Regions from separate parts of the Homo sapiens genome. Here all the other regions are linked to region 3. The links come from fine-mapping of genetic effects on gene expression. A gene starts in region 3. Each other region holds a variant in brackets. All regions are shown on one strand. Distances are between the middles of the regions.

Region 1 (8,000 bases), 120 kb after region 3:
CTCCCTGCGGACAGACTTGACTTACTTTTTTCTCCACACATCTGTATACAATTTGGAGTTTAAACCAAATGACGGGCCCGGTGAGGAGACACTGCTTTTTCCCTTGTCCCTGTCCCCACGCACTCCAGACATATAAAGAGGCCAAATAAAACCAGGCCGGCTCGCAGATATCAGGCATCATCATCATATCAACAGCAATACGACTACAATAATCATCATATTGGCAATAAAAACCGGAATGAACATTTAGTGAGTGCTGACTATGTGCTGGATGCAGACTTCCCCCAACCCTATGTGTCAGGTGCTACCATCCCCCATCTTAGAGGGGAGGAAACTGAAGTGCCTCAGGGAGGCAGAGTAACTTGTTCAAGATGCTACAGCTCTTACATGGCCACTAAATCCTAGGTCTATCTGAAGCTAAAGTCCACGGGCTTCCACACTGTGCTGTTCAAGAAGGAAGACTCCACTGGGACAAAAGCTCCCACAAAGCCCGGGAACCTGTGTGGACGGAGAGGCCCCCACGAGATCCCACAGCAGCCTGTCACCTGCCACTGCCCTCTGGAAGTCCAGTGCTGGGCCTGTGGTCCTTCCCCAACCCCTGGCCTGGGTCCACGCCCTGACTGCCCCACCCCACACTCCTTATGTCCCTTTCCCTGGAATCCCTTCCTGACTCCTCTCTGCTCCGTCCCCATCCTGCCCTCCCCCAGGCTCGGCTCAACCGCTTCCAGCAGGAAGCTTCCCCTTGCAGCCCATCCCATCTGTCAGGGTCCACCCTGGCCTCACGGTCTGCCTGGAGTTTCATCACAGGCTGCATTGTGCCGTCACCTCATCTGAGAACACTGCCTTAACTCGCCACTGTCATCTAACTCCCCATGCTCTGTGTGGCCTTCCAAACCCCACAGTGCCCTTCCGCACACTGTAAGTGCTCTCAGTACAGTGTCAAATAAACACACAGGATATTCCATAGTGGTTGAGAGGCTGGGTCCAGCTGCTCAGATTCTCCACCCAGCTCTGCTCCTTACTAGTGGTGTGACCTTAGGTAAAGCAACCTCTCTGTCCCTCAATTTCCTCATCTATACAATGGGGAAAATAATAGTGCTACATCACAGGGCTGCTGTCAAGAGGAAGTGAGTTAATCTATGTGAAGCACTTAGAACAATGCATCGAACATAGTAAATGCTATATAAATGGTAGCTGTTCACAGCAAAAGTAAAAAACAAAACAGATGCGAAACTCAAGTTAAAGCCTATCTAAAACTACATCACCTCCCACATTTCCTACCCATTTTCATGCTTCATTTTAGTCCTCAGCACTTTAACATCCTCTACATTTTACATGTCTGTGTTTCTTCTTATCTGTCTCCTGCACTAAAATGGTATCTCCATGAGGACAAGGGTTTCCATGCCCTGGCAAGTAGTTGGCACACAATAGGCTGTACTACAGGGTTAGCGATCGTGTCCCTAGCTGGAGATGAAGCTCACTCTCCCAGACTCGTTCCTAGCCTTGCACCACCTGAAACAGTGGCCAGCTGTCCAGCCAGGGAAGCGGAAGCCACATGACAAAGTTCTTCCAAGGGATACTAGAAGTCTCCAAGCTGACATTCCACATGACCAGGCAGGGCAGGATTCAGGGAGGTAGCCCGCCTTTTCGAAGTACAGAGCTGAGCAAATCTCAGGGTTAGGACAGAGGGCCGCCAATGCTGGGAGCTGAGAATTCCCAACTCTGGTCCTCGTGCCTGTCTTTGTGGAGCTCTCAGGACGTACCTGGTCATCCATGGTGTTAACCCCATCCGGACCCAAGGCCTCGATGGCTTGGTTGATGAGGTCCGTCCTCCCACAGTTGAGCATGCGGAAACCCAGGTCCTGGTTGAATTTTTCAGTAGCTGCTCGGGCATCCAGCCTCCGGAAGGAACTGAAACAGTGTTCGGGTCTGCCCAGAAGAGACCCAAAGGTGCGTGTGACTGTATGCAGACAGCAACTTTCAATGATGTGACACACATGTGTGAGCTTTACGTGTAGAGTGAGGATGAGGATGGGTGGGAAGCACCAGGGAGTTATGATCAGATCAGCAATTACTGTCCCCATCATGTTCTGTCATATGAAGAGCACACATTTCTGCTTTTCTATAAGTACATTAAAAAATTGCTTGGGAGGTAGGTTCAGTGGCTCACACCTGTAATCCCAGCACTTTGGGAGGACAAGGCAGGTGAATCACTTGAGGTCAGGAGTTCAAGACCAGCCTGGCCAACATGGTGAAACCCTGTCTCTACTCAAAATACAAAAATTAGCCAGGCGTGGTAGCATGTGCCTGTATCCCTACTAATCAGGAGTCTGAGGCAGGAGAATAAATTGAACCCTGGAGGCAGAGGTTGCAGTGAGCCGAGATTGTGCCACTGTACTCCAGCCTGGACAATAGAGCAAGACTCTGTCTCAATCAATCAATCAATAAGTAAGTAAGTAAGTAAGTGTTCTGAGCCCTTGTTGCTTCAACTGGCAGAAAACAAAGACTCATGTAAAACAATCTGTTATGGGTCTGCCCCAAGCAGGAAGCAGCTCCCACCCAGACTCATGCCTCAGCACTTGGCTGTATACTGTTTGTGTTGAGCAGGCTGCACTCAGCCTATAAACGGTCACCATGGCCAGGTTCTAGTATTTAGCTCTACATTCTCTCTCTTTAAGGCTTCCTGGTGAGGCTCAGAAGTACCAAAGAGATGGTAGAGAGTAGCATAGACTGCCATTTGCAATCAACGCAACCTACAAGGAAAGTCACAGATAATGCCTGTGTTATAGGGGGCGCATCACAGACGTCCAGTTGGCAGCTTTGGTCTGGAGCCTTGGTTGGGCCAAAGTGTAGAAAATTCATGTCCTAGAATGGGGTTTGGGCCTTCCGTATGAAGACAGAGGAGGCCATAACCTGGGTTTTGGCAGAGGGTTAAAAAAAAGATATAAGGCCAGGAGCAGTGGCTCACGCCTGTAATCCCAGCACTTTGGGAGGCCAAGGTGGGTGGATCACCTGGGGTCAGGAATTTGAGACCAGCCTGACCAACATGATGAAACCCAGTCTCTACTAAAAATACAAAA[C/T]TACCCAGACGTGGTGGTGCGTGCCTGTAATTCCAGTTACTTGGGAGGCTGAGGCAGGAGAATCGCTTGAACCCAGGAGGCAGAGATTTCAGAGAGCCGAGATCACACCATTGCACTCCAGCCTGGGCAACAGAGTGAAACTCTGTCTCAAAAAAAAAAAAAAAAAAAAAAAAATATATATATATATATATATATATGTGTGTGTGTGTGTGTATATAGATAGATAGATAGATAGATAGATAGATAGATAGATAGATAGATAAAAGGCTCTCATGGGCCTAGGATGGCCAGGGACGCTTCTCTAGAAAAGCTCCTCAGCAAACAAGTCTACTGTGAGAGGCATTTAGGGAAGGAAATTAGGAGCACAGGCTTGGAGGCCGTATGGACCTGGGTTCAAATCTGGGCACGGTAAAGTGCTAGCTGAGTATCTGTGGGCAAGCTACTGTTCCCCTCTGACCCTCAGCTTCTTCATCTGTAAGATGGGCATGATTGCCTCTTCCCTGCACTTGTCATGAGGACTAAGATAATGCACATAAAGAGGAAGGGCTCACAGCACCTGCACCCAGGAAGGGCTCCATGTGGTGTCAATTACAGGAACAGAGGAAAGAACGGGCCCACTTCTGCCCCTCAGTCCCCAAGTATCCCAAAGAGTTAGATGTGTGGGCTCTCCTGCCCCAGTCCCAATGTGTGTCTCCTCTGTGTAGCAGACCAGCAGCTGCAGGAGACGTTTCCAGACAGCAGCCAAAGTCTACAATAGATCTGTTCCCATACTCAGGCTTGGCCTTTGCAGAGGACACCCTTAGAACAGCTCAAATGTGCTGCAGCCCCTGCTCTCTGACCCCCGCCCAGCCATCTGGGGAAGAAGCGAGCAGAGGGGAGCCGCTGGGGGCAGGTCATGGATGCCGGGGCCCTCCCTCCTCCCTGGTTCATACTTGAGCTGCCGAGGTTCACAGTCCAGACCAGGCAGCAGCAGCCGGGCTGCCTGCCGGATGTCGCCGCTGTCCACGGTGAGGCTGCGGCGGTGCTCTGCGTAGGTGATGGCCACGCGCATCCACTCCATGAGGGGCGGCAGCAGCATGAAGGGCCTGTGGGGCAGCAGAGAGAGGGTCAGGCCTGGGGTGGGGTCCCTGCAGGGCAGCAGAGAGAGGGTCAGGCCTGGGAGGGTGCTTCTTGTGGGGCAGCAGAGAGAGGGTCAGTCCTAGGGTGGGGGGCTCCCTGCTGGGCAGCAGAGGGTCAGGCCTAGAGAGAGTGCTCCCTGAAGGGCAGCAGGGGACCCCTTAAGCACACACATGCTCACAAGTGGCAACCAAGGCTGATCACCCCTTGCAAGGGACCTGCTCTTTCTGCTCACAGAGACCCCGACTACCTGCAATGCACAGAAGGAATTTCCATCATGGGCCATTAGCAGAACCTGAGGGCCCTCAGGTGGCCCAGGGAAGGAGCAGTTCCCCAGTGTGTGGAATTGGGGACCTTTCCCCCTCCAAAGAGTTCAGTCAGGGTCGCCAAGTGTTCTTCTATGCAGAGGGGAGAGGCTGCACAGCTAAGAGTCTCACAGACCCAGGTCCAAACCCAGGGCTGCCACCAGCAGGGTCAGGTCACCATCCCCTCCGACAAGCACACTCGAGTCTGGTTCTCCATCTGTAGCACACGTGTGATACCTCCTTATGGAGGCTGTCATGAGGCCAAATGGGATGATGCATATTAGGCTGTTGTACAACATTAATGACCACTCCTTCCTCATCTGGCACCTAGACTGAGGTGGGCTGACACCACTTCGTGTGCCAGGCCAGGTTGCCCCCAGTTTGGTGCTCAGAAAAGAGTAGTGGCCTCGGCCGGGCTCGGTGGCTCACGCCTGTAACCTCAGCACTTTGGGCGGCCAAGGTGGGTGGATCACGAGGTCAGGAGATCGAGATCATCCCGGCTAACACAGTCTCTGTTAAAAAATACAAAAAATAAGCCGGGCTTGGTGGCGGGCGCCTGTAGTCCCAGCTACTCTGGAGGCTGAGGCAGGAGAATGGCGTGAACCCGGGAGGCGGAGCTTGCAGTGAGCTGAGATCGCGCCACTGCCCTCCAGCCTGGGCGACAGGGCGAGACTCCGTCTCAAAAAAAAAAAAAAAAAAAAAAAAAAGAAAGAAAAAGAGTAGCGGCTTCAAGTCCCACAGGGAGGAATGGTCCTAGCGGGTCCGAGTATCACTAAGAGCCCACAAAAGCAGGGAAAGGCGGCGGCAGGCTTAGAGCTGCAAACTCCCGGGGCGCCGCTCATGAGGCCCGCTCTGTGCCACCAGGGGACGCCATGTGCACAGCCTGTGCTGGGCCCTGACTGCGGCTCAGGCCGCGCCCGCCCCTGCCCTCGGCGAGCGGCTCAGATTCAGCTGGGGGGCGGGGACGCGTTTCTGTCCTCTGCCAGCTCTGGCAAGGCTCCGTGTTGGAGCCCCCTCAGGAGACCACTTCGCCGTCCAACAGACCTCCCCGCCACCGAGGGGCCCGGATGGCAGCCTGTGGCTTCATGACTTCGTGGGACACCCACCTGCTCTGCCCAGAATGGACGGAGCTCTTTCCCTGCTCCATCACAGGAACAAGGCAGCCCTGGAGCCCTGTCCCTCACTCATGCTGTTCTCTCTGATGACAGCCCAAAAGTCAGCCTCCCGGCTCCTGCCTGTTCCCAGCCCTTCCCGATGCCACTCTTGTCCTTCCTTACAAATTAAGCCAGGGAGCGGGCAGGCAGCCAGGGGCAGGCGGCCAGGCCTCCAGCCACCCCAACTCCCTCGGGGCTCTTGGAGCGTCCCGCCTGTGCGGTCACTGTGGTCTCTCCCCTTGACATGCAGCTAAGTGCTCCCGCCAGGGAAAAGATGTCCATTCTCTCTCCTTGGCTAGGAAGTAAGCCACCTCCAGGGAGTCAGCCTGGGCTGCCCTCGGAACCCCTATCTCAGGTCTCCAAAAGCTCGGGTCATCTCCAGAGTTCTAAAAGTTTCTTCTCTCCTTGAGGGCAAAGAATGCTTTTATTTTAAAAAGTGGCAAACAAATATAAATGCTCCTTGACTTAGGATGGGGTTACATACCAATAAACCCATAGTAAGTTGAAAATATCCTAAGCGAAAACGCATTGAATACACCTCACCTACTGAATAGCCTACCTTAAACATGCTCAGAACACCTACATTAGCCTACAGTTAGGCAAGATTATATAAGCCAAAACCTGTTTTATAATAATGTTGAACATCAGTGTAACTTACTGAATACTGTATGAAAGTGAAACAGAATTGTTGTGTGGGTACTCGAAGTAGTTTCTACTAAATGCATATCGCTTTCACACCACTGTAAAGCTGAAAAATTGTAAGTTGCACCATCATAAGTTAGGGATTTTCTGTAATCAGAAGTGATCTTAAAGGTCTTTCCTTTGGGAAGGTATTCTGATGTTCTGGTTCTGTCATTTCCAATATTCCTGGGTTTGAACCACTTAACTGGTCCACTGAGCATACCAATCTGTATGAAGGGGAGGGCCACAGGCCAGTAAAGCCTCACTATCTCTGGCCCTCAAGGACTCCCAGAACCTCACCTCACCCTATCTCCTGCCGTGACTCACCCCTGTTACCAGGACACACCACCAGCACTCATGGACCTCAGGCCCACCCTGCCTGCTCCCATCTATGCATGAGAACGAACAGCTCTCACCCCTGCTTGTCTAGATCCTATTTATCCTTCAAGACTCCATTCCAATGCCACCTGCTTCAGAAGCCTTCCCAGATTCTCTCTCCCCACCCCCCCAAAAAAAAGGGGGGCTGGGTGCGGTGGCTCACGCCTGTAATCCCAGCACTTTGGTAGGCTGAGGCAGGTGGATCACAAGGTCAGGAGTTCGAGACCAGCCTGCCCAATATGGTGAAACCCCGTCTCTACTAAAAATACAAAAGTTAGCCGGGCGTGGTGGTACTCACCTGTAGTTCCGGCTACTCAGGAGGCTGAGGCATAAGTATCGCTTAAACCTGGGAGGCAGAGATCGCAATGAGCCGAGATCATGCCACTGCACTCCAGCCAGGGTGACAGAGTGAGACTCCGTCTCAAAAAAAAAAAAAAAAAAAAAAAGAGAAAGAAATATCTTCCTGCTCTGAGATCACTGAAAACTTTCCTTTACAGCAATAGCCATGAATGCATGTTGTCTTCCTAACCAGACTGTTCCTTCTAAGCACGGGAACAATGACTTCCTCATCTCTGTATTCTCTGAAATATGACCAGCCTGGGGCCTGACATGGCAGGTCCTCAATAAATGTTCACTGAAGCCAGGCCTGCTGGCACACGCCTGTAGTCCCAGCTACTTGGGAGGCTGAGGCAGGAAGACAGGTTGAGCCCAAGAGCTGGAGGCTACAGTAAGCTATGATCGCACCACTCCCCTGCAGCCTGGGAGACAAAGAGAGACCGTGTCTCAAGAAAACAAACAAACAAACAAAATTATTAGTAGAAAGTTTTGCTGAGTGACAAAAAGTATGGATGAACATCAGTAACTTACTATAGTGTACCCAGGTTTTCAGTTATGGACCAAGTCATGTTTCTGCCCAGAAAAGAATGGTGTATAATTTTCAAGAGCCTAGTGTTGACTCATTAGAGTAGGAAGCTGAGATTCTATGGGGGGATCTTGTGTAGTCTAGGAAGAAACAACAATCTATTCATGAATTATCCCTCTGTTTATAAGAGTTCCCTTAAACATAAATGCCCAATTCCCCCCAAATATTTTTAGATTTCACAATTCTTATATTACAGGGCTGGAAGGCAAGCTTACAGACATGCTTCTATATATCAGTCCTTCTGATTGCAGGAAAAGCCTTTATTTCAACCATCAGCATTGGAGACTGAAGTGTAAACAAAAAGATAATCCGTGGATTTGCCAGCCATTCTTCCCTATTGTGGCCAACAGCCAAGACAAAGCAC
Region 2 (8,000 bases), 270 kb after region 3:
TACAATACACATTTCATGTAGACGGTGATATCAGCCATGCCACGAAAGTGGGAGAGATGCCACTGGGAGGGCGCACCTGCCTCAGTTTCTTCATCTGTAAAATAGAGGTTATGATAGGACTTTGCAACTCTACGGAGAAACAAGTGGATCTGTGTAAAGCACTCAGTGCCTGATGATGAACACACACTCACTATGTCCAACTATTATTACTAGTATTTCTTACCACCCTTATAATCATAGATTCTCTGTGTAAAAGCCCTCCCCACCGTCCTCAGCAAGGGACTTGCCCCAGCACTGCTGACGTTAAGGCCGAGTTCTCCTTCAAGGTGGGGCAGGTTGGAGGGCACAACCTGGCTCCCACACGGTCCTAGGGTGTGGGTGCTGCCTGTTATGTGGTGAATGGATAAACATGCTCTGGAAACCGAGGGGGCTGGAGGTCCCCAAATTTACAACAGCAAAGGAGAGGGGCTAATGCTGGTCACAGAGTGATGAGGGAAACTACTACCTGAGATACTCCCATGCAGGTGGCTTTAATTCCCTGATATCCAGCACCCCAAAACCCTCGAGGGTCATGTGGAAGGCTGGATAGATGGCCATGTCGCATGCCCAAGAGATCTTCCAGAGCAGCTGGTCTCACCAGACTTGAGGCTGTTCTTCTCGGATATGCTGAAACAGAGAAGAGGCTTCTGCAACCTGTTCACTAAGTGGGTCAGAGATTAGACTCTAACCTCGATGAGGGCGGGACCAGGTCTGTTTTTCTTACTAGGGTATCTGTACTCCAAGGCTGAGCCAGCGCTTGGCACATAGTCCATGTTCAATAGTATTTGTTGCATGAAGAAAGGAATGACTAGAAAAGTCAAATAGATGTGTGTGTTTTAAGGACCTACCATGTGACACACCTGTGCTAGGTGCCACAGGGGCATGATCTTTTCTTCTCTGCACACAGCTGCAAGGGAGAGGTGCTGATGGCTCTCTTTTGAGAGGAGGACACTGAGGCTAGGAGGTCAGTGTCCCCTCAGACCAAGGGCTCATGACTGGTGAGTGGCAGAGCTCAACCTCCCCCTGGTATCCGATGCTGGTGCCTGGATCCTCTTAGAAGGACTGGCTAGATAATTTTCAGGGTCCAGATCAAAATGAAAATGGGAGGCTCCTTGTTCAAAAATTAAGAATTTCAAGGCAGTGATAGCTGATCATTAAGCCAAGTGTGGAGCCCTTCTGAGTGGGGGGCCCTGTGTGACAGCACAGGCTGAGAGTCCATGAGGCTAACCCTGTTCTGAGAGGCTGAGGGTGATGCCGCACTTACAAGGTACAGTCAGCCCCTGTGATGGCCCTAATGGTTTCCATGTTGCCAAGCTCCAACCCAACACTCCAAATGACTTCCCCAGAAAGGCCGCTGCAGATTATCTTACCCTCTTTTCAAAAAACAAAGACTGGAAAAGTCCTCGCCAGAAGGGCTCAAAATTCCATATTAAAAAGAGGCCTGCACTCGCGCGAGCCTGCCTTCTGGACAGTGCATTTGCATGAGGCCACGTGAGCGCAGACACTGTCTGTGGAAACAAGCACGCCTGGCATTTGGAAACTAACTGGGACCAGACCCTTGGTCGAGGAGCCCCAAATTACCACAGAGCAAGTCTCCTGATTAAAACCAGGGCACTGAGGTTCCTGGGTTTCACTGAATAAACACGCCCAGTTCAGGCTGACTGGTTTCAGCTGATGGGGAGAAATGAGTCTATTTGAAATAACCTGTGTCCGGGGCCATCCTGACATGGGGCTCTGAGGGTCTGGGGCTTGGCTTTCCGAGGTTTAGAAGCCCATCTTTGGGAGGTTTTTGAGACAAAGGAAAGCTGTATTGGGCAGCTAAAAAGCTCTGGGGAATACAGGCCCCAATCATTCATGAGGAGGAATGGAAACAATTAGATTGATTCCAGGGATGTGTTCTGGGTTCCCATTCTCCTCTCCTGGCATCCAGTGCCTGTCTCCTCCATCCCTCCTCCCCTGCCCCAATCATAGCTCACCCTCGGCGCTGAGCAGACATGGGCAGGGAGAGAAGGGCACATTCTGGCTGGCCGTAGCCCGGAGGCTTTACTGTGGTAAGTATAGTTCTGAAATGCGCAGGTCTCCTTAAATTCAATTTCCCTTTTCCTATCAGAAATGACACGAGCAGCCACCCCCCAGGTTTCCAGCTGCCTTTCATGGCAGGCTCTCAGTGCTTCTGACACACAGAATTCCCAACACCTGTGCCAGCCAGGTGCCAGGCATCTACCCCTCACAGTGGAGAAACCTGAGGTGGCTTAGCATAACTTCTTCAAGGCGAGCTTATGCGGCAATTTCTAACCAGTCATCGTCAAACTGCTGATTAAATGTTTGCAGTTAAAATGTTAAGAACAAAAGAAAAAATATGTTGCTTTGTTTTATCCAACACTTGACAAGAACTAACTTTGGGATCAAGTGGCCAGGGTTGCTAGAACAAGGCTAAAAATGCCGATGTTCCTCTGCTTCACTCACACTGCAGCAAGGAAACTAACATTCCAGACACCCCGTCCCTGGGCAAGGAGGAGGGGAGACAGCCCTCACTGACAGCACCCAACGTGAGGCTGTGTTTTGTGGTCAGTCCCAGATTCTGGCCATCACAGTGGCACGGATCATACGGACACTGCAAAAGTCGCAAATGGCTCCCTTTCATCCTTTCTTTCAACCATCAGCAAACTGGGGCTCTCTGGATAGACAAGAACTCCTCACAGTAGGTTAGCACTCGCCTTTCAGCAATGATTTCATTTTAAACTCAACTTCAGATCCAGCCCAGCTCTGACTATAATCACAGTGGATGGGCTGAGCCTTCTGCTCCTCTGGGAGGTAAAAGATACTCACTGGATCATTTCCTGCACTCTGCTCTTTTGCTACCCCAAAACCCACAGGCTTGTCAGTGACCGAGTGGCAAACGTGTTTGTCGCAAATATTTCATCATCAACTACAAGGCTGAGCAGTGAAAATACCAAGGCCAAGTTGCTGTTGCCACTGGTGCTGCTGAAGCCCAGCTTTAAGATAATCCATGAGCCCCAGAATATGTTTTTAAAAAAAAATACAGTGTGTACTTGAATGTGATAAAAACCGCACCAATAACAACTGCACACACAGAGTTTCCAAGAATAAATAAAGCTTGGCTGAGCCTGTCCTAATTGACTACATTAAGGGTATACAAAGGACCTGTGTGTGACCAAGACAGTGGTAGCACAGAAGATATGTGGGAAGCTTGTGATACAGTTCTTACCCTGGACACACTAATGACCTCACTGGGGAAGCCCGGGAGGCACATGGGAAAGAACAGAAAGATCTGGACGAAACACTCCAGCCCCATCAGTGTCTGCTTCAAAACTACTGTGCCTGAGGTACTCAGGGCGGTAGAGGCACAAAGCCTGTTTGATTCTGCTCTGCTCATAGGCAACTGACTACAAAACCAACAGAACTAGAACAATTCCAACCAGAGACACATGCAAGAACCCTTGGTACTTCATGCCATAGGTTTTTGGATGTTTAACAAAGACATGACCTCTCTTGTGTAAGTTAAACATGTCACCTGTGCCATCTGTTTATATTCTAGATATGCCTGATGAGCCTGGCTTAGGCAATCTTGCCCTCTGATTCCACTGCCCTCTGTTCAGATCTCCATCACAATCATTAGTACAGTGTTTACAGGCTTTCTACCCTGGAGACTATAATCTTCCTGGGCAAGGGAGTTGGGGGTTTGTCTCCTCTCCCGCATCTTGTATTTTTCCCTTGATTGCGCTCTGCCCACAGACTGCTCAATAAGGGGGCACTGGCAATGAGAGTGCGAAAACAGTAAGAGAAACACTTGGTCAACGAAATTAAGAATGGGCCAGGCATGGTGTCTTACACCTATAATCCCAGCAGTCTGGGAGGCTGAAGCAGGAGGATCGCTTCAGTATAGGAGTTCAAGACCAGCCTAGGTAACATGACAAGACTCCATCTCCACAAAAAAATACAAAAATTAGTCAGGTGCCTGTAGTCCCAGCTACTTGAGAGGATGAGGTGGGAGGATCACTTGAGCCTGGGAGGCGGAGGTTGCAGTGCACCAAGATGTTGTCACCACATTCCAGCCCAGGCAACAGAGCAAAATCCTGTCT[C/CAAA]AAAAAAAAAAAAAAAAAATTAATAACGGCTTTTTAAAAAAATTTCAGATTTGGGGATACATGTGCATGTTTGTTGCATGGGTATTACACACATAATGGTGGGGATTGGGCTTCTAGCATACCTATCATTCAAATATTGAACACTTTACCTAATATGTAATTTTTCAACCCTCACCCCCACTCCTCCCCTCCCCACGTCCCCCTCCCCTACCTCTTTTTTGAGACATAGCCTCGCTCTGTCACCCAGGCTGGATGAAGTACAGTGGCACAATCTTGGCTCACTGCAACCTCCAGCTCCTGGGTTCAAGTAATTCTCCTGCCTCAGCCTCCCAAGTAGCTGGGACTACACGCATGTGCCACCATGCCCAGCTAATTTTTTTGCATTTTTAGTAGAGACAAGCTTTCGCCACATTGGCCAGGCCAGTCTCAAACTCCTGACCTCAGGTGATCCATCTGCCTCAGACTCCCAAAGTGCTGGGATTTATAGGCATGAGTCACTGTGCCTGGCTCCACGTTTTTTGGTTCCTAGTGTCTATTTTTTCCATCTTTATGTCCATGCATACCCATTGTTTAGCTCCCATTTATGAGAACATGTGATATTTGATTTTCTGCTTCTGAGTTCAGTTAGGATAATGGCCTCCAGCTCCACCCATGTTACTGCAAAAGACATGATTCCAAGGAATGACTTATTTTAAAGGCAACCCAGAGACCATCTAGAAAAGTCATTCTCAACACTTTCCCAAGGAGGAAGCTTGGGGTCTGAGGGACCAAGGGACTGGTCTAAGGACACTCAGTTGGCTCGTGGCAGGGCCAGGATGGACCTGAGTCTCAGCTACTAAATACACAATGACGTCATAATAAAAATTCCAACTTAGATTTCTAGGCAGTTGAAAGAAGGTGGTTTTACTAGACTGTGAATCAGCCAGTAAGTACAGAGTCCAAGAGTCCAGAGGATTATTTTCCATTTAATGCCAGCTGGGGAGTCAGAACTCAATGTTCTGAGTTGGGAGGTGACCCATAATGTGATAAGGATCCAGCATGTTGCTCTCAGGTCATCCTTGGGCAGCTTAACCACTAGTCTAAGTAATCTATAAACCCCCCTGTTTGGAGAAACAAGATGTTTTGATGGAGAAATACCAAGAAGTGTCATCTCAGGGCTAAGGAAGGAAGCTTGCATGCCTTTCAAAGGAACTGCCCAGTTATTAGCCTGAGTCAGCTGTAATGTCAAAGGCACCTCTTTCCAGACTGAAATCCTGGAGCCAGAGACTGGCACTGTCTTAGCAAGGATGATGGCCAAGGCCCCTGGAGCTGGGGGATAACATCTTGTCAGCCCCACAGAGTAATAGGAACAGCGCTGGAGTAGACACCACCTCAGACTCTACAACAGATGACCCAGGGAAAGGCAATGAAATGAAATAAAATGCTTCCTGGATCTGACACACAAGAAGCCTTGGCTCAGGCCTTCTTCCCCACAACCCCACCGACTTCAGATGGTCATTATACAGCCAGGTGAAGAAGGTCACAGAGACCTCCCCCTTTGTGATAAAGTCAGAAGAGACCCCAAAGCTTACTGGGATCTCTTTTGGCTTTATCATAAAGGGGCAGGTCCCACCAGGACCAGCTGATGCCTGCACTGGCCAGTATCTAGGCAGCAGGGGAGGAGAAACCTAGGTGTGGGATAGCTCCAAGCCAAGGACAGGTTTGGGACAAAAAGGGAACAGCCAACATACACCAAGTATATGCAGTGCTGTCTGTCACCTCTGAAGTCATTACCAAGGCGGGCTGTGGAGTCAGCCAGACCTGAGCGTGAGCTTCCCACTGTCACTCTTCACACTGTGTGGTAAGTTATTTAACCCCTCCCAGCCTCTGTTTTATCAGCTGGAAAATGAGACACCAGGACTATTTTATTTTATATTTATTTTATTTTATATGAAGTCTCACTTTGGCACCCAGGCTAGAGTTCAGTGGCGTGATCTCTGCTCACTGCAACCTCTGCCTCCCAGGTTCAAGTGATTCTCCTGCCTCAGCCTCCCAAGTAGGTTGGACTACAGGCATGCACCACCACGCCCAGCTAATTTTTGTATTTTTAATAGAGATGGGTTTCACCATGTTGGCCAGGCTGGTCTCGAACTCCTGACCTTAGGTGATCCACCCACCTCGGCCTCCCAAAGGGCTAGGATTACAGGTGTGAGACACTGTGCCTGGCCTCGAACTCCTGACCTCAGGTGATCCACCCACCTTGGCCTTCCAAAGTCCTGGGATTACAGGCGTGACCACCGTGCCTGGCCACTTTTTAGAGAGCAGGTGTATTAAAATGAGCTAGTGAGTATAAAGCATTTAGTTCAGTACTTGAAACATACTAATCTATTAGCACACGTTACTTAATTTTATTTTTATTCTTAACACACAGCTCACTCCCTGAGATCTCTAACAGAGCTGCATATGATTTATGTCTCCCCAAAATATGTGCACAGATGACCCAAATAGAAATTTAATTCTGGCTTTGGAAGGCACTCAGGTTTTGAGAAAAGAGCAGATTTTATTTCTTAAGGATGTTACCCTTGGGCTAACATTTGAATGCTTTGTATTTCCTGGGGGAATTGAAGTCAGAAGGCAGGGTCCTAAAAATGTACTCAGTGGCCGAAGCAGTCTGGTTGATGATTAAAACCTTATCCCTGGATGATCTGAGCTGAAAAGGCCATTTCAGCTGTAGACCATTTCAATGCCTCCACAGGTGTACAGAGATTTATGATAAAAGTCACTTGGATGGATATACCTCACCACAGTAGAATTTCTTCTCCAAAGCAAAGTAGAACTTGAAAGCTCAAGGTGCCATTGGGTGGGCTGGCTGCCTCTTGAATTCTCTCACCTAACCTTCACGAAGGACTTACCCCACAGGCAGGCATATGGGTGTCGTGTGTCCACATTAGACGTCCGTGGAACTCTCTAGAACATACCAGACTAACTTTATCTCCCCTGGGCAATCCCAGCTCACTACTGAGAATGCCTTACTTCTGGTTAGCAAGCAGCACATTCAAGCTTGCCAATCTTCCCCAATACCATTTGTATCTGTCTTTCAGCCAATGTGCACCAAAATCTTCCACAAAGTTTTACTTTGCGCCATTTAAAGATGTTTTACTGGCCAAGTGCGGTGGCTCACGCCTGTAATCCCAGCACTTTGGGAGGCTGAGGTGGGTGGATCACCTGAGGTCGGGAGTTCAAGACCAGCCTGACCAACATGGAGAAACCCTGTCTCTACTAAAAATACAAAATTAGCTGGGCATGGTGGCGCATGCCTGTAATCCCAGCTACTCGGGAGGCTGAGGTGGGAGAATCGCTTGAACCCAGGAGGCGGAGGTTGCAGTGAGCTGAGATCTCACCATTGCACTCCAGCCTGGGCAACAAGAGCAAAACTCCATCTCAAAAACAAACAAACAAACAAAAAAAGATGTTTTACTTTGGGTCAAGTCATTGCAAGGGAGAATGAACAGCTGCGTATTTCTTATTCCACAGAAGCCAAAGCTTCTTAAATGTTTATAGACAACTCATGAGAGTGTGCCATATTCAATTGAAGTTCAACAGGAAAAAGGAGAAATATTCACCAACCAATTGGAAAAAATAAAAACAGTGGTTTAAGCAAGAGAATAAGGATAGACTTTAAAGGTTACTTCTTTTCTGTCTCAAAGTAAATAAAAACCTATTAGAGACAATATTGCTTTATCCAGAAAGATGCCTGTGATGTATCATTGGGATGCACCCGGATGCAAAGCCAACAACTAAAAGTGGCTTAAACAGCCAGGGCGTTATTGTCTCCTGTAAGAAGAGCTGGGTAGGGTAGTTTCAGGGTTGGTTGGTTCT
Region 3 (8,348 bases):
CTGGTCTCGAACTCCTGACCTTGGGTGATCCGTCTGCCTTGGCCTCCCAAAGTGCTGGAATTACAAGCATGAGCCACCGTGCCTGGCCAGTGACTACATCTTTTATCTCATAAAATAGAACAGCATTTCCCAAACTCGGCATTATTGATGTTTTGGTCTGAATAATTGTGTGTTGTTTTGTGCATTGTAAGATGTTTAGAAGCATCTTTGGCCTCTACAAACTGGATGCAATTAACATCTTCCCCTCAAGTTGTGACAACTAAATACTTCTAGACATTGCTAGTGATTTGGTGCTTAGGAGACCTTTAAATCAAGTGTCCCCGAGGGACAAAATCACCACAGGTTGGGAACCACTGAAATAGAAACATGATGTTAAGACAACATACAATTCATATAAGTAACTATATGAAAGATTTTAGTACCTGTGGCCAAGGTGTTTTTGCTTTTAAAACATTTTTATTTTTAGGCTGGGCGCAGTGGCTCAGGCCTGTAATCCCAGCTCTTTGGGAGGCCAAGGCAGGTGGGTTGCCTGAACTCAGGAATTTGAGGCCAGCCTGGCCAACATGGTGAAATCCTGTCTCTACCAAAAATACAAAAATTAGTCGGGCATGATGGCATGCACCTGTAATCCCAGCTACTCGGGAGGCTGAGGCAGGAGAACCACTTGAACCCAGGAGGTAGAGATTGCAATGAGCTGAGATCTTGCCACTGCACTCCAGCCTGGGCGACAGAATGATACTCCATCTCAAAAAAATAAATAAATAAAATAAAATAAAAATAAAATTTTTATTTTTTAGATGCTGGGTTTTACTCTGTTGTCCACGCTGGAGTGTAGTGACATGATATTGCATCCTCGAACTACTGGGCTCAACTAATGCTCTCATTTCAGCCTCCCGAGTAGCTGGGATTTCAAGCACATACCACTGTGTTTACTTTTACATTGAGTAAAGTGTGTAGCTTCTAAGAGTGTTCAATAACAAACAACAGTATTTCGTGAAATCTGAAATAACTATTCTGAACATATTGTACCTCTACAAAACATGAAGTCCTGTTTCTAAGCATAATATTACACGCAAGAAAAGGTGGACATAGGAAAATATAAGCGGAAAAGGATGTTATCTCAGCTGATGACCAAAATGTAAGAATTCAGAGACAGTATGGACCAATAGTAATAATAATATTAAAACCGTACTGATATGTTAATACAGTAGGCAATACTTAGTGACAAAATAGTTGTGCCAGGCATGCTATTGCTTATGAGGATCCAGAGATGGAAAAACAAAACGACTGCTCTTTTTCTTTGAAAAGCTTAGAGTTTAGTGGTGGTTCATGGACACATAGACAATCATTGATTGAATTACAATAAAAAAGACTGTACTGGAAAAATTATGATAGAAATGTCTACTCCTGACTTGTAGTAAAATGATGGAAAAACAAATTTAAGAAACTTTAAGAGCCTTAGCTATGTGAACAGTGTAGTTCACACTTTGGTCAGGTTTCTGTCAACCTGAAACAAAGAGGCAGTTCATATAATTCAGATGAAGATTCCTCTCTTTTGCTACAAATAAGCATTAGCTTATTGGGTGACTCAAGTTCAAGCAGTTGAATTATTTTGCTAAAATGATCAGGATAAATAGTTTAATTATTCACTTTGTGGAAACTTCAAAGTGCTGTGGTCTAATGAATTGAACAAGCAAATGTCAGCTTGAAAGATTTGTTATTGAAATATATTATTTTGCATATTGTTGTATTTGCTTTATGTTAATATATTTAATATTGGCATATATTAAAGTATACCAAGGTTTTTAAATTTATAAACCATTTATAAACATATTCTGCTCCTCCAGTGTGTTTTCTGGGAACCCTTTATTTCTTCAATGATGCAATGACTGCAAGTTACTGCATAGCTCTGTACTAGAAAAAAGGGTTTAAAAAATGAGTATTTAAAATTCACATAAACATAGCTTCAGTCAAGTAGGAAATACACAAATTTGAATGACTGAGACCTTGGCATTGATCTGGGCAGGAAGTGAGCTTTAGGACACAGCTTTGCCTTAAATTTATTGGTCTTTCTGGACTTGCTGACCTGAACAGACAAACGCAGAATGTCAGAACACCAATGAAATGGGATTGGGATGATATAGGAAGTGAAAGCGTGACAGCTTCATATATTCACCAAATATTTCTGGCTCATCTGCTTCCTACCCGGCATCTGATAGAATACCATCTCTTGACTCCCTTATAGTTGGATAGGGTCATGTGACTCTTTTTGGCCAATGAATTTAAGCAGATGTGATGCATATCTACTTGTCTAAAGCATTTAATTGACTGAGATATTCCTGAGTTCTCTTGTGGTACAGTGATCAGCAACACTTGAGATATGGCATCAGCATGAATCTACTGAGTGACTACTACGAACAGGGCCCTCTGTTGAACTGTGATGGATGTGTACCATTTGCAGTTGTTTTTTGTTTTTTGAGACAGTCTCACTCTGTTGCTTAGGCTGGAATGCAGTGGCACAATCTTGGCTCACTGCAGCCTCTGCCTCCCGGGTTCTCGTGCCTCAACCTCCTGAGCAGCTGTAATTACAGGCATGCGCCACCACACCCAGCAAATTTTTTTGTATTTTTAGTAGAGACAGGATTTGCCATATTGGCCAGGCTGGTCTCGAACTCCTGACCTCAAGTGATCTGCCAGCCTTGGCTTCCCAAAGTGTTGGAATTACAGGCATGAGCCCCTTCACCTGGCCCCTTTGTAGTTTTAAACCAGGGATTGGCAAACACTTTTTTTGTAAAAGAAGAGATAGTATTCTAGGTTTTGCACACCCTACTGTCTGTTGCACACCCAAGTACTCAACTCTGCTGTGCTATGGCAGAGAGGCAGTCATAGAATGGATGTGCATAGATGGATTGGATGTCTCCCAATAAAACTTTAGACATTGGTCAATTCCGAGGAACAAAACAGTGATTTCTGAAACTTTAATGTACACACAAATCTCCTGAAGATCTTGTTAAAATGTAGATTCAGTTAAGTCTGCTATGCAGTCCAAGATAGTAGTGATAGTGGTAGTGAGAGAGGTTGGGCTGAATAAACTTTGAGTTGCAAGGAGCTAAAGGATTATCATCTCCGTTTCTAGCCTCTAGGCCTGGCATAATTGCTCAGCGTAGTGCTAAGGATGGTTTAGGTGACTAAATTTTGAAACTATGACTCCCCATCTAATGCAGCAAAAGCCAAAGTCCTTACCGTGGTCTTTCAGGCCCTACAAGACCAGCCCCCTTTAATATGTTTGACCTCATCTCCTACTCTCTGCTCTTGCCACTATGGTTTCCGTGCTGTTCCTTGAACCCAAAAAGCACACTCCGTCTCAGATCTTAGTACTTGGTGTTTCCTCTACCTGGAAAATTCCTCCTCCAAGGTAGCTGCTTAGCCTTCTTCCTCACTTCCTTCAGTACTAGCTCAAATGTCAGTAAGGCTTTCCCTGACCACCGTTTTTTCTTTTCTCTACCATTTCACTATCTGACATGTATTTACTTGTCTTCCCCTTACTTAGATTGTAAGCTCCATGTAAATATGTTTTGTTCATAATCCCTAGCACTTAAGAGTTCCCAGCACACAGTAAGGTGCTTAATAAATATTTGAATGAATATATAACAGACTTTGCAGCTAACCAGGATATCTTGAGGTCGGAGGCTGCTGTTGTTTCTCCAGGCTCCCTCAGGATGCACTGTTGCCAGTCAGCGTTACTCATTTTATTCCCTAGGGAACAGTGGGTTTGGTAGAACTCTCTTCTAAATCTCTTTTTCATAGAATTTAAATTATAAATTGGTCATTTACTGTTGTCACACAATATTGCGTTGCTGAATTTTCCACTGATTATATTCATTTTATTTCCTCCCAGAACTTGGTTTCTTGTTTTTCTGCTCACTGTCCACACCCACTCCACCCCAAGGCTGGAATAATTCTCTTGGAGCAAAAAAATCATCTTTTTCTTTGTATTTCATTGAACGTTCTCTTTACAGTGTTAGGTAAACCTAAAAAAAAAGGAAACAAAAGTCTAATAATTCGTAATACTCAGGCCTACTGGATGTATAACATCATAGGGTAGCTGAAGACTCTTTGTGAGGCCAGAGCTTTAGGATTTAAAAAGCCACCAACCATGACCGTGTCCGACACGTTCTACAGAGAACTCCTAGGTTACTGGGTGATTGTTTGGTGGGGAAGCGGCGAGTTGTCTTTTTTTCAAAAGACGTTTTGGGGTATGGAGTTTGCTCGCTCTGCATACAGAAGGAATTCTAGAAGCTGGGATCGCACCACCCACCCCACGCACCCCTTACTTGCAGAAACCTTTGCCCCCCAACCCCCACCCCCACCCCAAATAAGGGCTCTTCAAGGGGCAGTTGCCAGCTCCAGAGCCAGCTGCTTGACACCTATTGTCCCCGTTTGGGCGTCAAACGATTTCGCCTGAAGGACCCTAGCGTCGATTGCTCTCAAAACTCAAGGGGCCTTTCCTTCGGCCTTGCCGGGGCCATCCCCACCTGCGTCCAGGAGGCGCCCCACAGCGCCGGGGCCGGGGGACGGCGGAGAAGCTAGCGGGCGGCCTCTTCCGGGCAGGCGTTCGCGCCGGGCAGCCCGAGCGGCCGCGAAGGCCCCCGCTCTCCGCTTCTCCCGCCCCTCGCGACCCAGAGGGCTGCTGGCTGGCTAAGTCCCTCCCGCTCCCGGCTCTCGCCTCACTAGGAGCGGCTCTCGGTGCAGCGGGACAGGGCGAAGCGGCCTGCGCCCACGGAGCGCGCGACACTGCCCGGAAGGGACCACCACCCTTGCCCCCTCAGCTGCCCACTCGTGATTTCCAGCGGCCTCCGCGCGCGCACGGTGAGCGCCACCCGGGACCGAGCCGCTGCAGGGGAAGAGGGCCGCTGCGCCCGGGTGTCCTTTATCTCCGGACCCGCTGGAGCTTCCGAGGGGCTTGCCCCCAAGTCCCCCCACCCCACCCCGGTCATTTCCCATGCCCTTCTCTGCCCCCAAGCCCCGACCTCTCTCTTTCCTCCCTTCTCCGGAAGCCGGCAAAAGCCGGCCCTCCCCGGTAGGGACCGTTGCAGTGGCCGTTGGCGGCCGGCGCGGCGATGCCCCGCCTCCGGCGCGAGCCTCGGAGCCCCCGGGCTGGTAGGCCGAGCCGGCGGCTCCGCGGGGGAGGGGCGGGTCGGGGGGCGGTGCGAGGCCCAGCCGGGCGCCCCGCTGGCGGGTCGCGCGCGCGCCCGCGCACTCTTCCTGCCCTCGAGGCGCGCCGCGCCCCCTCCCCCACCCGCTCGCGTAGGCTACCGCTCGCTGCGCGTTTTGTCCCGCGTCTCGCCCCGTCCGTCTCCTGACTGGCCGCTCTTGTCCTTCCTCCCGCTTTTTCTTCTCTCTCCTTGCGGTCTGAAGATGCCCTCGGCCACCAGCCACAGCGGGAGCGGCAGCAAGTCGTCCGGACCGCCACCGCCGTCGGGTTCCTCCGGGAGTGAGGCGGCCGCGGGAGCCGGGGCCGCCGCGCCGGCTTCTCAGCACCCCGCAACCGGCACCGGCGCTGTCCAGACCGAGGCCATGAAGCAGATTCTCGGGGTGATCGACAAGAAACTTCGGAACCTGGAGAAGAAAAAGGTGCCAGGAGTTGGCGGGGAAGGGAGGGGTGGCTGCGGCCGGGCTCTGCGGCCCCTCCGACCCTGGTCGCTGGAGCCTTCGCTTCTTTTCGTCTCGGGAGCGTTACTAGGTCCCCTCCTCCCACCCCCTGGCCCACACGCCCCGTCTCCACGTTCAGCGGGAGCTTCGTGCCCAGAAAACGGGCTCTTGGAAGAGGCACTTGTCACCTGACTCGGACGCGGCACTGTACCCCAGGCCTCTTTATTACTCTTCCGCTGTGGGTCCGGCTTTTTGGCCTTTAGGAGTGGGACATGTGAGGGTGGGGGCCTGTCGTCAGGACTTCACTGTATGGTGCCCTTCTTTCCGTCTCTGAGGCCCGATTTCTCTGACGAGGGCCCAAAATGAAGAGGTCCCTGCGCGGGGGGCTCCGGGTTCAACCGACCGCCTCGTGGAGTTGGGGCGGCCTGCGTCCTGCAGCCTTGGGGTCTGTCCGCTCGGTTACCATGCACTCGAGACCTGTCGAGCGTCCCCTCTTCTTCCGTAGGAGAGAAGTGTGTTTAGAATCTTAAGGTAGAACTGCCTTTCCGGCAGGCCCATTTTGAATGGGTCTTCGATTTGCTACCCCCGCGCCCATGCGATGGGCTCCCCTGCGTTTCCCTCTTTGTTTCAATTGTTTAGGTGTCCCCCCGAGCCTCAGGCTCAGCTCAATCGCGAGATGATTTTCTGCAGCGACTTTTTGTTCCTAGGGGACTGTGAAGGGGCGGGGGACTGCCACGATTTAGATTCGTTGGGGGCTGGGTCCTGGGGAGACTGGAGAGGATGGCTGGGACTCGGGGCACATGGAGAGAGCGTCTAACATGGCGGCGGCTGCGGGGAGAGGGAAGCGCTTTACTGGAGCTGCATTGTGAGCACAAAGCGAAAGCAGAGGGGGAGGGCAGAGACCAGGCAGCCGCCCCGACTGGCCTCCTTAGGCCCCCCTCTAAAAAAAAAAAAAATCGAGCCACACCCACGATTTTTTGGATTCAATATTTAGTCCTTGTAGATCAAACTACTGAGGTATATCTTCATCTGCAAGTCAGCCTTTTGTTTTATGCTTTCATCGCAGGACAGTGTAAACTCTTGTTTAGAGGGGCGTGTGTATGTATGTAGAGAAAAGGTCTGGGCAGAGTGAATAATTAAAATGAGTAAGATCAGAGGTGGAAGGGGAGAAACAAATTAGTCGTTTGTAAAAACGAGGTAATTACGTCTGTGACTATCATGTTAACTTGAATTTTACCTTATAAAGTAAAATGAAGCCTTGATAACTTCTACTTGTCTGCCTCTAGGAAAACATATTTATAACATCTTGAATTTCCAGGAAATCATTTTGCAGTGTTTATGTGGCCAGACACCTAATAGTGTTACTTGAGGTGCTGATATAGTAACTGGCTAAAACTTGGGCTGTGGGAAATAAGTTGAAGAAAACTGGTGATGTTTAGGTCTTATTAATTTTACTTATATATTTTACATTTTGGGAGAGTTTTAAAACATTTAGATTTGATACTTCCCTGTTTCATCTTCGGTATTGAAGGTTGGAAGTTTTACTTGAATTTCATGGACTTGGGATTTCTTTTTTTTCCCAATCCTTTATTTTGATAAATGTATGTTTTATTATAGGTAATTGGAATAGTAAATGTAGTTACATCAAGAAAGTAACAAAAGTATTTTAAGTGTAAGGTAGCTACATTCAAATGTTGAATGGAATAAGCATGCCCAAGGCCAGTATCTTCTGAGTCTGACACATGATTTAGTTTACCCTGTTGGGTATCTTCTTAAATTTTTTTTTTTTTGAGACGGAGTTTCGATCTTTTTGCCCAGGCTGGAGTACAATGGCGCGATCTCAGCTCACTGCAACCTCCACCTCCCGGGTTCAAGCGATTCTCCTCCCTCAGCCTCCCAAGTAGCTGGGAGTACAGGTGCCTGCCACCACGCCCAGCTAATTTTTTGTATTTTTAGTAGAGACAGGGTTTCACCCTGTTGGCCAGGATTGTCTCGATCTCTTGACCTCCTGATCCGCCCGCCTTGGTCTTCCAAAGTGCTGTTACAGGAGTGAGCCCCTGTGCCCGGCCTCTTTTTAAAATTTTAATGCAGTAAGCAAGCCTGCTGATCTGGCTGCTACTTGAGTTTTTGATTCTTTAGAATTTCTTGGAAATGTTTTTTTCTAGGACAGTAATTGAACATAAAATATTAATGATTGTGAACATTAATAATGTGTTAATACTAATTATGAACATTAATGATTAGTGATATAAAGTGTAGAGACATTAATGACTGAAAGATAACTCCTCAGAGAAGTTAATATAAAGGTAGGTGCTGATTGGCAGCCAATTTAGTTGTGAGGTGGCTGTTAGAATCTAGTGTTCAAGTACTTCTGAAAAAAAAATATAAATCTAGTTTATAAGCCCCTCCTGAGGACTTGAACCATGACTGGTCATTAAATGTGTATAGGTGTATGTGAATTACTATACTCTGTCATACCCTACCCTCAAGTGATTTTGTTATTTTATTTTTATTTTTTGAGATGAATCTCTGTTGCCCAGGCTGGAGTGCCCAGGCTGGAGTGCGGTAGGATGATCTTGGCTTCCTGCAACCTCCACCTCCCGGGTTCAAGTGATCCTCCCGCTTCAGCCTCCTAAGTAGCTGTGATTACAAGTGTGCGCCACCACCCCAGGCAATTTTTTTTTCTTTGAGAAGTC

Direction of the effects. Positions count from the first base shown, and alleles are read on the strand shown. Sizes are in standard deviations (SD) of each study's normalised expression. Not every link is listed here.
For the expression in activated naive CD4 T cells of the gene that starts at base 4,729 in region 3, allele CAAA in region 2 goes with a lower level than allele C (moderate effect, 0.68 SD a copy in Schmiedel 2018).

Evidence for each region. PIP is the estimated chance that this variant, and not a neighbour inherited with it, causes the effect.
Region 1: its variant is fine-mapped to the expression of CAPRIN1 in whole blood (INTERVAL, PIP 0.91).
Region 2: its variant is fine-mapped to the expression of CAPRIN1 in activated naive CD4 T cells (Schmiedel 2018, PIP 0.95).

The regions. Positions count from the first base shown.
Region 1 is chr11:34,169,143-34,177,142 of GRCh38, forward strand. ABTB2 (ankyrin repeat and BTB domain containing 2) reads right to left here. Exons shown (of 17, transcript NM_145804.3): 4 at 4,013-4,165; 5 at 1,764-1,929. Among named protein-coding and RNA genes, the nearest start is that of NAT10, 68 kb to the left of the region's middle. RefSeq lists enhancers at 4,441-5,363, 5,364-6,284. The variant C/T (reference allele first, on the strand shown) is at 3,081.
Region 2 is chr11:34,313,619-34,321,618 of GRCh38, forward strand. All of the region lies in intron 1 of ABTB2 (ankyrin repeat and BTB domain containing 2), which reads right to left. Among named protein-coding and RNA genes, the nearest start is that of ABTB2, 40 kb to the right of the region's middle. The variant C/CAAA (reference allele first, on the strand shown) is at 4,143.
Region 3 is chr11:34,047,003-34,055,350 of GRCh38, forward strand. It overlaps CAPRIN1 (cell cycle associated protein 1), which reads left to right and starts at 4,729. Exons shown (of 19, transcript NM_005898.5): 1 at 4,729-4,869; 2 at 5,419-5,634. The coding sequence starts at 5,419. It overlaps LOC101929918 (a long non-coding RNA gene), which reads right to left and starts at 6,325. Exons shown (of 3, transcript XR_931177.3): 1 at 5,317-6,325; 2 at 3,669-4,031. RefSeq lists silencers at 4,384-4,583, 4,443-4,992, 5,033-5,332 and enhancers at 5,943-6,012, 6,083-6,152, 6,223-6,292, 6,323-6,602.